4 linked regions of the Homo sapiens genome follow. The protein of the gene in region 1 purifies or fractionates together with the protein of each later gene. This does not show direct contact. Each region holds a gene or a part of one and is shown in the gene's direction. Other genes may lie near its edges.

Region 1 (2,793 bases):
TGATTTATTTTAACCGTAGCACTACTGCTTTATTTTAGTTATATACCAGTAATGGAAAATAGTGGCCACTTTTCATTATTAATCATAAGATAATTCATTGTATTTGTCTTTCCTAATAAAATGGCATTATATTAAGGCCCAAAATGTTTACTATGGCCCAGTAAAATATAGGGTTGTTCTGTGAGCTATTTCTTAGGATAGAAAATTATTCCAGAAAGCTATTAGTTCAAAAGTCTCTAGCAGTGCCAAGGTTTCAATAGTCTCTTTAATTTTGAATCTATGCGATTGAAGATAAGACTGCATCTAGTTTGGGGGTTGCATGTTTGTGGACATTCATGTTTCTATGTACCTGGAACTTCTTATTCTCACCATCACACAGAATTTTCAAGAACTAGTTAAGCAAAGAAAGCAAAGCCCAGCAGGTGTCAGAATTGGGTCCCCAAGCTGAGGGTCATTAGGGTGCATGTCAGTGTGCCAACTCCAATATCCACACCTAGAGAACGCACATCTTCCCAAAAGAAATGAAGCACAGATGATACTTGATCCTCAACTTTGTCTCCAGAAATTTTTTCAGGAACTTGAGTTCTTTATCAAATGCTCACATCCTACAGAGAAATAAAGTGTTCCATTTTCAAGGTTCATGAAGCTCGTCAATGCTGGGAGCAGGCACACACTTGTATTTTTATACTCAGGGATCCCAACAGGCAACTAAAACTAGACAAGGACAAAACTCCACTCAAAATATTCTGAAAGTTAGCTGATGCCCCATATTTTATTACTCCAAATGTGTATTCACTTGCCTGAGTGCTGGCCATGAGCACTCAGTGAACACTTGCAGTACAGTGAGTGATGTCCTTGACAAGTTACTATGAAGACTCTGAGAAAAAGTAACATCCCCCACTGTCCTCAACAAGCCTGTAATCCCATGGCTGCCAGCCCTTACCATGCAACAACACTGCGCTAAGTGCATCGAACCACACAAAACCCTGTGAGAAAATACTGCTTCCCACTTCACACGTGAAGTAACTGAGTCTAGTTTTAGAAATACCTAAACGAAGAGGGACAGGCACAACAAATTTGCTGGAATGTAAAGAAAGTAGATCAGTTTCTGCGTAAGCAGTAAGAAATGGCCTCATGAGGAAGAAAGGGACATTTGCCCTGACATTTCTCAAAGACTGCTTAGGTTTTGGAGACAGAGATCCAAGGGCAGGCAAGCACAATGGTTCATGCCTGTAATTCCAGCACTTTGAGAGGCCAAGGTGGGAGGATTGCTTGAGCCCAGGAATTCAAGATTAGCCTGTGCAACACAGCAAGACCCCATCTCTATTTTAAAAAGAGAGAGAGAGATCCAAAAGCAAAGGCATTTCAGTTTGCAAGGCCAGCATGGGAGAGGGTCTTAAAACAGAAACACACAAGGTAAGATTGGGGGATGGTACCTAGACCAGCCTAGGATCATAGGATTTGATAAAATATGCATTTGGAAAACTGGTGCTAATTTATAGAGACTTAGAATTTCAGGCTAAGGACAAGGACTAAGAAACGAATAGCATGAACAGTATTATTGATAAACCCATCATTGCATCTTAAAGGCTCTGAAGTCTTTAGTATTGAATTAAAAAATAATTTTCACTGGACAAAACCAAAAGGTCTTTACACAACTGTCAAGCACTTTGAAATGATTCAGCAAAAAGCAGAATAAATCACTAGTGGAATTTCAATAGCATGTAGTTGTAAACCATCATGTGTCCAGCAAAATCACAAAACAAGAGTTTATTTTAGAAGGGACTTAGGGATATTAAGAAATATAACATACAAAATAACTAAAGTTTTCTCCAAGCAAAACCAATGATCCTTTAGGGATGAACAGAAAGAAAACAAGAAATGCTTCTTTCAAAAGTTGCTACCAAGGCTTCTAAGATTTCTTTGGAATAAAGTCACTAAGATTTGCTTCTGAGGTCAATCTTGCCAACTTTTCCACCATGCTTTTTAGGAAGGAACACCAGGTAGGGCTCAAGTACTGGTTTGGCTCCTGTCCCATTTTTTGGTCCTTTTGTAACTCCCTTTACTCAACTCCAAGTATGTCTGTGCACGGACAATGAGACGAAAGCATGCTCAATGCGAAAGCACAAATTATGTATTGAGAAATCACTACAATGCCAAATTTTTTTAAAATAAAAAAAAAATATATATATATATATATATCTTTAAGAACTCGCTGTGTTAGGGAAACTGTTTACATATTGAGGTGTTCCTCTTTTTTTGACTGGAACAATAAAAGAAAAATTTGATATGGCCTTGGTTTCTTTTTTATGTGTGTCTGTGTCCAAAGAAGTCGGCCTTTTCTACAAGTGAGAGCATGAATTGTTTCAAAGCGCAACACCCTGCCCCAGGGCCACTCAAGATGTCAGGCATATCAGGCATAACCCAAGGATAGTACCATGGGTTTGGAGTGATCTTCTCTCTTCTTCCCTCCCACTCTTCCTCTCTCTCCATCTCTTTCTTTCTCTCCCTAACTCTCTTGCTCCCTTTCCTCCTTCTCGCTCTCCCCCTCCTGTCTCTTTCCCCATCTCTCCCACAATGTTCTGCCTATGGCCAGATCCCAGCAATGGGTCAGCTCCGCTCCTTTCCACACCTACTGACCCAAGTGGGACTCCTTTGATACCTGTTTGTACCTTGCACTTCATGGAACTTGAAAAAAACGAAAGGGAATTAGGGACTTGCAGAGCAGTTGATCCTGCCCCTTGTCACAGCTCTAAGAGTCTTAATAAAAGGAGTTTGATCATTCATGATAAA
Region 2 (3,500 bases), on another chromosome or scaffold:
GGGGATAGAAATGTTTTTTACCTTTTTTTTTTTTTTTTTTTTGAGACAGAGCCTCACCCTGTCACCCAGGCTGGAGTGCAATGGCGCAATCTCGTTTCACTGCAACCTCCACCTCCAGGGTTCAAGTGATTCTTGTTCCTCAGCCTCTCCAATAGCTGGGATTACAGGCGTGAGCCACCACACCCGGCTAATTTTTGTATTTTTAGTAGAGACGGGGTTTTGCCATGTTGGCCAGGCTTGTCTCCTCCTGACCTCAGGTGATCAGCCCGCCTCAGCCTGCCAAAGTGCTGGGATTACAGGTGTGAGCGACCACACCTGGCCTGTTTTTTACTACTCTTAATCCACACATTTTTGCTATCTTTCTCTCCCTTAACCTGTGTGTACTACAAGTATTTGAGGCTAACTGCAGTGTGGTAATGGGCCTATAGGAATACAAACCAGTCTTGCTTTGGCCAAAATAAGAAACAACAGGAATGTCTGAAATGTTAGGCTAATTCAGTGGTAAATTTAAGAGGAAATCCTAAATGTAAATACCACTTTTCCTGTTACTCTGACTTCTTTTCCATTGAATGTTTATAACTGACATCTTCACACATAACTCAAGATTTTTTTAGTTTAGAAACTTTTTAAAGACAATTGCTTAGAAATAGTTTACTAAATAAAAGCATTATTTCCTACCTGTCTCCAGAAAGTATTGTCTAAATTTATTTTCTTTATAGATTCACTTTCTGCAAGCCTTGGACTTCAATTAGTTGGTCCTTATGATATCCTTGCTGGAAAACATAAAACGAAGAAAAAATCAACAGGCCTGAATTTTAACCTTCACTGGAGGTTTTACTATGATCCTCCTGAGTTCCAGACCATTATTATTGGAGATAATAAAACTCAGTACCACATGGGGTATTTCAGGTAAAGGATCTTTTCTTCGCCTCTAAAATACAGCTGCTGTCCTGCTAATGAGGATAAATAGTTATTCACTAGCCTCACCCAAGGTGAAAGGCATATTTTCCCCTGTTGGTGGATATATGAGCCATCTGTTGTTCTTGCTGTTACCGTTTTAACCTTCCCTAGGATGGGTAAACTCTTTAGGTTTAATCTCACTTGTTTTTCCTTTCCTTGTAAACTTTTTTTCCCTTTTGGGTTCAGAAGAGCTCTTTTGGCCCAAGAAAGATAATTTAGAGCAGCTGTGCTTAATAAGCCGTGTGCCAGAGTGGCAACTGGTAGTTAAGAGTGGTCTCTGGAGTCACACTGGTCCTCTTGTTTATTATCTGTGTGACCCTGTATCATTACTGACTGTGACTTTCTGTGACTCGGTTTCCTGTCTTGTAACAATAGGGATAACTGTACATACCTGATAGGAATATTATGAGAATTAAATGAATGCATGCAGAATACTTAGAAATAGAGAAACTCCAGGAGGAAAATACTTGTCCGCTTGTACCAGTAGAAATGCTATCCTTTAAAGTGAAGATTAAATGTAAGGTAATAGAAGGAACGTGCCCAGGAAGAAGTGTTGTAGTACAGCAGAATGCACATGTGGCTAGGAATTGAATTATACTGTAGCCAAGGTCCTAACTTACTAGGTCCTTGGCTGAGTAATTTAACCTCTCGGTATTTGTTTCCTCAATTTTAAAATAAAAGGTTTGGTTATATACGTGAATAGGATCCTTTCATCTCTAATGTTTTACAATCCTTTTTCTTGTTTTTCCTTTTTTTTTTTTTTTGTATTTGAGTATAAAAGCAACTAGGTCCTAAGAATCTTAGTTTTAGGTTCCATTATATAAGATTTATCATAGATATTCCTAAGAAACTTGGAGCTTAAAACTGGCAAATTTGTTTGAATTTTTTTAAAAATGCCCTTATAAAAAAGGCATCAACCTAGATCCTTGGGAGGGACCTGGCTTTCCTTTTTAAAAGATATTTTACTGAGGAGCTGATGAAAAATGACTAGTGTGGGGTTAGCAGATCGAATAATTTGAAGTAGACCATGCAGTATTCCTACCACTACAATGTAATCATCCTATTTGTGACAGAGAAAGGGAAAAAAGTGTAATAATAGGACGATGTACCTATAATTTGGATAATTTTGAGCTATTGAAATGTCTTTGTAATTTTCACAACTGTTGTCCGTTGTTTGAGGATGCTACCTACTAAACTGAAAACATTCATTCCATATCTACTACATATACACCAGCAACAGTATAAATTTAAGCCTAACTTTGCAATATTTATAATACTTTAGTGATGGAATTTTTTAACATGCAGTATGTAAATGTGCAGATTTTATGTGTGTTGACAAAATTTTTCAGCTTGCAAAATGGGACTGCAATATTACATTTTTCACTTAAACAATTTTTTACATCTACGTTGTTGCTTTCTAAAATGAATGTGAATGCCATCTTTTATGACTGCAACTTGCCTTTTCCATTACAGAAATTTTTGTTTGATGTAATCGATAAATTCTGGTATGATTAAAAAAAAAAAAAGGCCTCCAAAAAGGAAAAAAAATAGGTGTAAATTGTTGTCTGTAGACCTGAAATCCCACTTGCCTGATAATATAAATTATGGGCAGCTAAATTTTTAATGTCTTTTGCTTACACAGGGATTCTCCTGATGAATTTCCTGTATATGTTGGTATAAATGAAGCAAAGAAAAATTGTATAATTGTTCCAAATGGAGATAATGTATTTGCTGCAGTCAAGTAAGAATATTTTAATTTATATTTGTTTACAATGTTTATACTACATTAGTCCATTACAAAGGGGGTTTGAGGGGCTGGGCACAGTGGCTTACACCTGTAATTCCAGCACTTTGGGAGGCCGAGGTGGGCAGATCGCTTAGGTCAGGGGTTCGAGACCAGCCTGGACAACATGGGTATACCCCATCTCTACTAAAAATACAAAAATTAGCTGGAGGCATGGTGGCACACACCTGTAATCCCAGCTACTCAGGAGGCTGAGTCAGGAGAATTGCTTGAACACAGGAGGCGGAGGTTGCAGTGAGCCGAGATTGCGCCACTGCATTGCAGCCTGAGTGACAGAGTGAGACTCTATCTCCAAAAAAAAAAACAAAGCGGATTTGAGACAAGCCCATAATTGTAGATTTCTAGAGATAATTTCCATGACTTTTGCAGGTAGTCTTATCTATACTGTTATTTTGTGCCTCTTCACCAAAAAAATACACCTCTTATGTAACTATTTTACTTAACGAAAATAATACTTGACCTCAGGTGTTCCATGGCAACATCAACAGTTTTGTTAGACATCTGATTTTAAACACCTGTTAAGAGTTTATTTCTTATGTATGGTTCAAACAGAAAGGCTTAATAAAGTAAAAAGAGGTGGTCATTATATCCTTGGAAGGGTTGAGGGAGCAGGCTGAGCTTCCAGGAATGACAGTTGTGTGGCTCACAGTGGATTTTGTCTCTGCCACCATCAGGGAGCTGGGAATTCGAGAACTGCTGCCACAGTGAGTGGCTCTAGGACCACATTATCTTTGGT
Region 3 (3,500 bases), on another chromosome or scaffold:
AGAGACAAAAAGGCATAGTGAGTGAGACAAGGGTGTTTACTATGTCACAGGTTTTAATAGGACTTTACTGTATCATTTAATCATCACCATTACACTTTGAGGTTAAAAAAAAAAAACTGTGGTGAACCCTAGAATTAGAAAAATATAGGAATTCATCCAAGTTTACCAGCAAGTGAGTGGCATAGGTGGGACTTAACCTGGGTCAGGATGAATACAAAACCCTGGCTTTTAACAAGGACAATATTCTGCACTCAGGACCAAGAGACCCAGATTTTACCTCTGAATCTCCAGTTATTAACATTTGCTGTGTGACGTTGGGCAAGTCACTCAGACTTTAAGCCTCAGTTTCTAAATATATAAGTTGGGCTTAATCATTATATGTACTTCATGTGTTCAGGTGCATTCAATTCTGAATCTGAAAGTTTTTATATAGTAAGAGAAAAGGGAATTTCTGAGTTCTTGTACCAGCTCTGTTTTGTACTATGTGGTATGTGTTTTACCCTAAGTCTCCTAACCTATGTTGGGCCTAATTCTGCCCGTTTTCCAATGATAGAAAATGCAAAGGAAAAAGTAAAATCACTCCTAAACTTGAATCACCATTAATATTTTGATGCACATTTCTTCTAAACATCTGTGTTATACATATGCTTATACCCAGACATATGTGTACATTTACATAACAGGGATGGTATGGGATCCATGCTCTTTTATTAGGAGTAAATTTATCAATATGCTGTCCTCTACATTTTAAAGAGGAGCTATAAGTTGAAACTTGTAGAATGATGTTTTCCTAGCTTCTTTCATTCATCTCTTTTTATTCCAAAGAAGATGCATTTCTAGAACTTAGAGCACATTCTGTTATTTATGTATATATGTATGAATGACAGGTCTCACTCTGTTGCCCAGGCTGGAGTGCAATGATGCCATCACGGCTCACTGTAGCCTTGACCTCTTGGGCTCAAGCGATCCTCCTACCTCAGCATCCCAAGTACCTGGGACCACAGGAGAGCACAGCCATGCCTAGTTAATTTTTAAATTTTTTTTTTTTTTTTTTTTTTGTAGAGATGGTGGTCTTGTTGCCCAGGCTGGTCTTGAACTCTTGGGCTCAAGTGATTCTCCCACCTTGGCCTCCCAAAGTGTTGGGATTACAGGCATGAGCTACCACGCCCCACCTCTATTCTATTATTTAATAATTGGGAGTAATGAATTCTCACATTGGTGACCTCCGAGGATTTTACCTACCTTATTTGCCATCTTCTGAGGATTTTACCTACCTTTCCATGCCGCCTCCTGTCTCTGCATGTTCTACATTGTCATGTAACATACACCCCAATTTCTCACTTTCTTTCTTTGCTTAGGCTCTTAGGCTCTTTTCTCTCTCTCTCTCTCTTTCTTTTTTTTTTTTTTTTTTTTTTTTTTTGAGACAGAGTCTTGCTCTGTCACTCAGGCTGGAGAGCAGTGGCCGATCTCAATCTTGGCTCACTGCAACCTCCGCTTCCCGGGTTCCAGTGATTCTCCTGCCTCAGCCTCTGGAGTAGCTGGGATTACAGGTGCGTGCCACCATGCCTAGCTAATTTTTTGTATTTTTAGTAGAGATGGGGTTTCGCCATGTTGGCCAGGCTGGTCTTGAACTCCTGACCTCGAGTGATGCACCCACCTCGGCCTTCCAAAGTGCTGGGATTACAGGCGTGAGCCACCGTGTCTGGCCGAGGCTCTTCATCAGAGTTCCCTAACCTGGGTCCATGGAAACAGCATGGAACCTGTGAACTTGAGTGGGGAAAAAAGGACATCTTTATTTGTATTAACCTCTAACTTAAATATAGCATTTTCTTTCATTATAAATATAGATGGGAAACCATAGTGTTATTAGTGGTTCGTATGTTTTTGTTGCCAATAGAAATCCCAGGCATTTTTATTTCACATTACAGTTGTTGCAGATATCTCAAAAAATGTTTACTGCTGCTTTGAAATTATGGTGGATATTAGACTTGCTGCTAGATTTTATTATTTAAGGCACTAATAATCACATAGGGTACTCTATCACAAATTTACTTTAAAAAGGCATTTATTATTATTTTTTTATTTTTTATTTTTTTTTTTTGAGACAGAGTCTCGCTCTGTCACCCAGGCTGGAGTGCAGTGGTGCGATCTCGGCTCACTGCAAGCTCCGCCTCCCGGGTTCACACCATTCTCCTGCCTCAGCCTCCCGAGTAGCTGGGACTACAGGCGCCCGCCACCATGCTTGGCTAATTTTTTTGTATTTTTAGTAGAGACTGGGTTTCACTGTGTTGGCCAGGATGGTCTCGATCTCCCGACCTCGTGATCTGCCTGCCTTGGCCTCCCAAAGTGCTGGGATTACAGGCGTGAGCCACCGTGCCCGGCCGCATTTTGTATTTTAATACTGATTTTCTTGGAAATCCTGTGTGATGTTATCATATTCACTTAAATATGCTATTCTCTGCAGGGATCTATAGGCTTCTACAGTCTGTCGAGAGGATCCATGTCACAGAAACAATTAAATGTCCCAGGTTCTACAGATGACCTTCTGACACCTTATGTCCGCTTTATTTTTTTCTCCCAGCTCAAATGCCACTTGACTCATGAAGCCTTCCTATATGTCTTTGAGAAGAAGAAAATTTGGCCCGGCGTGGTGGCTCATGCCTGTAATCCCAGCACTTTGGGAGGCCGAGGAGGGCGGATCACGAGGTCAGGAGATCGAGACCATCCTGGCCAACACGGTGAAACCTCGTCTCTACTAAAAAAAAAATACGAAACATTAGCTGGGCGTGGTGGTGGGCGTCTGTCATCCCAGCTGCTGTAGTCTCAGCTACTTGGGAGGCTGAGGCAGGAGAATGGCGTGAACCCAGGAGGCGGAGCTTGCAGTGAGCCTAGATCGCGTCACTGTACTCCAGCCTGGGCGACAGAGGGAGACTCTGTCTCAAAAAAAAAAAAAAAAAGAAGAAAATTTACCTTTCCTGTGTTTCCTCCTAATACCTGGTCCCTTTTGTGGCCCTTAGCCTGTTCTTTCCCATGCTTTAAAGAATACCTGGCTTATTTATCTTTGCAGCACCCAGGGGGTCATGCACATAGTAGGTGCTCACTAAGTGTGATGTGACTTGAGTCACTCTTTAAAAGAGCTCTTCCCAGTGAAGCTTTTTATTGCAGTCTCTGAGAAATTAGCACTTTCTAACCTTGTCTCTTTATGATTTTTAAAAATCCATTGAGTTATACTTTATCATTTTCTGGAGTCCAGAAAATTTTGATCTTATCTCCTTATGTGGCAGAGGGATGTAGGGCAAGTTTTTCTACATTCCTTAAGACCTATCCTAGGGCAATATAAGAAATGTCCATAGTGATTGCTGTAGCTTGTTGACTGGGAACAGCAAACTGCAACTCATGACTCATAGGGATGTTCCCTTCCTTGTGGACCCCGGTGTTTCTTCACAGGCATGTGAGGGTACTTCCGGACCTCTGGCATGCCCATACTCAGGGCTTTTCAG
Region 4 (3,500 bases), on another chromosome or scaffold:
TTTGAGGAAATCTTAAGAATTAAAAAAATGCATATACGATACAGTACGTACCCTAGATGAGTTAGGGGCCCACTTGTGGTCTTGGTCATTAGAGTGTACTCAGGGCAGCAGATCATCTGCAAAAGCTGTGGGCCAACCAGCTTCCATAGAAAGTTCCTCACAAAAAGAATAGTTCCTTAGAAGAACCTGGACACACAGAAGGTATTGAATGAGTACTGATTGCTTTTTGACAATAAAATAGGTTCATTATATCTGTATTACAAGGTCGTAAGAAAAATATATACTTTACATATTTATCATGTAATATTTGATATGTACATATAACATATGCAAATTGTAAAGCACAGTGGGGAAATGAATACCAGGGAGCTCCTCCCTAATTTAAGAAGCAAAACTTTACCAGTCTGTGCTCTTTCCCTACCCACTCCTCTGCCTCCTCGACACAGTTCCAGGAGGAACTATTATGGGTTTTGTGTTCATCATTTCCTTCCTTTTTAAAAAGTAGTTTCAGCGTATATGTTACATATCAATCTCAGCAATGTCGCTTTTAGTATTGCATAGTTCTGAGTTTTATAAATATGGTATCATTCTGTACGTAGTCTCTGCAGCTTGCTTTTTCACTCAATATTACATATCAAACATCTCTGGTATTTTGTCTAACCATAGTTAATTATCTTTATGATTTTTTCCAAGTTTTTTTGCTGTTTAGACAATGAACATTCCTATACCTCTCGATACATATGTGCAACAGTTGTTAACATTTTGCTATATCTGCTTCATTTCTCCCTCTTTTTTCCCCCTCTGAACCATTTCAAGGAAAATTATAGATATATTATTTACCCTTAAATACTTTGGCACAAATCTCTCAACAATATAGATGTGCATTCATGAAATAAACTCGGTTTGGTTATGACTCATTATTTTTTATTCCCCTCTGGATTCCATTTGCTAATATTTTACGATTTTTGCATCTATGTTCGTGAATGATACTGGCTTATAATTTTCTTCTCTCATACTGTTCTTATTTTGTTTTTTTATTAGTGATATACTGGTTTACTAAATTAGTTAGGTTAATGTTCCTTTTTTAGTTTTTTAGAGAAGTTTATATAAGAGTGGTATGATCTTTCCTTGGTCATTTGGTAAAACTTGCCTGTAAAACAATTTTGGCGTAGCATTTTCTTTGTGAGAAGATTTTTAGTAACCAATTTAGTTTTGGTAACAGCTTTAGGACTTTTTGATTTTTATAAGTTATTTACCTAGGTTTTAATATATCTTGTAGTCATAATATTTTCTTTTTCATTCTTCATATCATTTTTATGCCTTGTGTCTTTTAAAAAAAAAAAAACTTTTGGCTTTGTTGGCCCCCTCTATTATAACTTCTGTATTTGATTTTATTAATTTTTGCTCTTTACTTTCTTTTTTTTTGCTCTTTCTTTGATTTATTGTCTTTCTTCTAACTTCTTAAGTTGGACATGTTAGCTTATTGCTAATATTTCTTTCTTTCTTTTTTTTTTTTTTTGAGATGGAGTCTTGCTCTGTTGCCCAGGCTGGAGTGCAGTGGCACAATCTTGGCTCACTGCAACCTCCGCCTCCTGGGTTCCAGCGATTATCCTCCCTCAGCCTCCCAAGTAGCTGGGATTACAGGAGGGTGCTACCACGCCTAGCTCATTTTTGTATTTTTTAGTAGAGATGGGGTTTCACCGTATTGGCCAGGCTGGTCTCAAACTCCTGACCTCGTGATCTGCCTGCCTCAGCCTCCCAAAGTGCTGGGATTACAGGCGTGAGCCACTGCGCCCGGCCTAATCTTTCTTTTTTTTGAGATGGAGTCTTGCTCGGTTGCCCAGGCTAGAGTGCAGTGGCATGATCTCAGCTCACTGCAACCTCTGCCTCCCTGGTTCAGGCAATTCTCCTGCCTCAGCCTCCCCAGTAGCTAGGATTACTGGCAATAGCCATACGCCTGGCTAATTTTTGTATTTTTAGTAGAGACAGGGTTTCATCATGCTGGCCAGGCTGGTCTCGAACTCCTGACTTTAGGTGATCTACCCACTCGGCCTCCCAAAGTGCTGGGATTACAGGCATGAGCCACCGTGCCTGGACAGCTTTCTTATTTTCTAATGTAAGCTTTTAAATTTCAAGCAAAGCACTGCTTTTAGTGTATCTTATAGGTTTAATTTGAAGGATTTTAGTTTTGTTCACTTCTAAGTATTTTTATATTTTTCTATTATGGTTTTTCTTTTGTCCATGTATTATTTAGAAGTGTTTGTTAATGTCCAAATATGTCAGAATTTATTTTTCTTTTTTGCTTTTTTTTTCTTCTTGTTTTAACTGGTTTCTGACTCTTGCCTCCTGGTCAGAAAGAATTCTAAGTGAAACTAACTCTGAAATTTATTGAAACTTGTATTTGTTCCCTAAAAAATAATAACATATTTGATGGCTTAAAACTACAAAAATGTATTGTCTCAGTTCTGGAGTTCTGAAAGTAGTATCACTGGGCTGACATCACAATGTCAGCAGGACCACCTTCCCTCCATAGGCTCTTGGGGAGAATCCATTCCTTAATCTGATGGCTGCCAGCATCCTTTGGTTTGTGGCCCCATCATTCCGATCTCTGCCTCCTCAGTCACATTACCTTCTCCTCCTATGCCCCTCTCTTTTAAGAATATATGTGATTGCATTTAGGGCACACTAGGATCCAGGATAACCTCCCCATCTTAAGATCCTTAATCACGTCTATGAATACCTTTGCTTTCCTTTTTTCTTTTACTTTTTGGCACAGAGGGTGCATTCACAAGTTCCAGGGATTAGGACATACATACCTTTTGGGAGCCACTTTTCAGCCTGTCACAATGGTCAAGTTATAAATTTTTCTATCTGTGCTTGGGCAGAATATATATTCTCTAATTGTTGGGTGAGGGTTGGTTCTATCTTGTCCCTATCTCCTCTCACTTAATTTTTTAAAAATATCATCAGTTTGGAGCCAGGCATGGTGGTGTGCAACTGTAATCCCAGCTACTCAGGAGGCTGAGGCAGGAGGATCACTTGAGCCTAGAAGTTCAAGACCAACCTGAGCAACATAGTGTGACCCAATCTCAAAAAAATAAAAACAAAAACCCAGTTCTTTAATAAAAAAAGACATATACATTCTTAGCACTATAAGTAAGAATTTATATGATATTAGTAATTTATTTATCTTTATTTTTTGACCCTTAACTTAGCGTCATCAAATAACATACTTGGGCTGTAATCATAGCAGGTTTATAAATTTAGACACATTCTTCCTGTGTCCCATGATATGGACCCTTCATTTGTTTGTTCATTCCTTTATTCCTTCCTTCATTCATTCAGCATTTATTCAGCAGCATTTATATTAACCGTGTGCCAGGCGTGTTGTAGAAGCTTGGGCCCAAAAATGGATAAGACACAGTGTATGTACTCACTGAGCTCACATATTAGTGTAAGTAGGCAGATATTTTTTAAATGATAAGTAATGTATCATTTAA

Evidence for each region. The genes of interacting proteins can lie anywhere in the genome.
Region 2: the proteins of KCNJ6 (region 1) and HPF1 purify together in Homo sapiens (affinity purification with mass spectrometry; 2 studies listed by BioGRID and IntAct, with this or other methods). This does not show direct contact.
Region 3: the proteins of KCNJ6 (region 1) and MB21D2 purify together in Homo sapiens (affinity purification with mass spectrometry; 2 studies listed by BioGRID and IntAct, with this or other methods). This does not show direct contact.
Region 4: the proteins of KCNJ6 (region 1) and UFSP2 purify together in Homo sapiens (affinity purification with mass spectrometry; 2 studies listed by BioGRID and IntAct, with this or other methods). This does not show direct contact.

Annotation. Positions count from the first base shown.
Region 1 is NC_000021.9:37,606,873-37,609,665, reverse strand, and holds the end of KCNJ6 (G protein-activated inward rectifier potassium channel 2), read left to right. Parts: 3' UTR 1-2,293; downstream 2,294-2,793. UniProt on the Homo sapiens protein: Inward rectifier potassium channels are characterized by a greater tendency to allow potassium to flow into the cell rather than out of it.
Region 2 is NC_000004.12:169,747,945-169,751,444, reverse strand, and holds part of HPF1 (histone PARylation factor 1), read left to right. Parts: intron 1-719; coding exon 720-909; intron 910-2,602; coding exon 2,603-2,701; intron 2,702-3,500. UniProt on the Homo sapiens protein: Cofactor for serine ADP-ribosylation that confers serine specificity on PARP1 and PARP2 and plays a key role in DNA damage response.
Region 3 is NC_000003.12:192,907,857-192,911,356, reverse strand, and holds part of MB21D2 (nucleotidyltransferase MB21D2), read left to right. Parts: intron 1-3,500. UniProt on the Homo sapiens protein: Probable nucleotidyltransferase that catalyzes the formation of cyclic dinucleotide second messenger in response to some unknown stimulus.
Region 4 is NC_000004.12:185,408,965-185,412,464, reverse strand, and holds part of UFSP2 (ufm1-specific protease 2), read left to right. Parts: intron 1-51; exon of another isoform or gene 52-3,500. UniProt on the Homo sapiens protein: Thiol-dependent isopeptidase that specifically cleaves UFM1, a ubiquitin-like modifier protein, from conjugated proteins, such as CD274/PD-L1, CYB5R3, DDRGK1, MRE11, RPL26/uL24, TRIP4 and RPL26/uL24.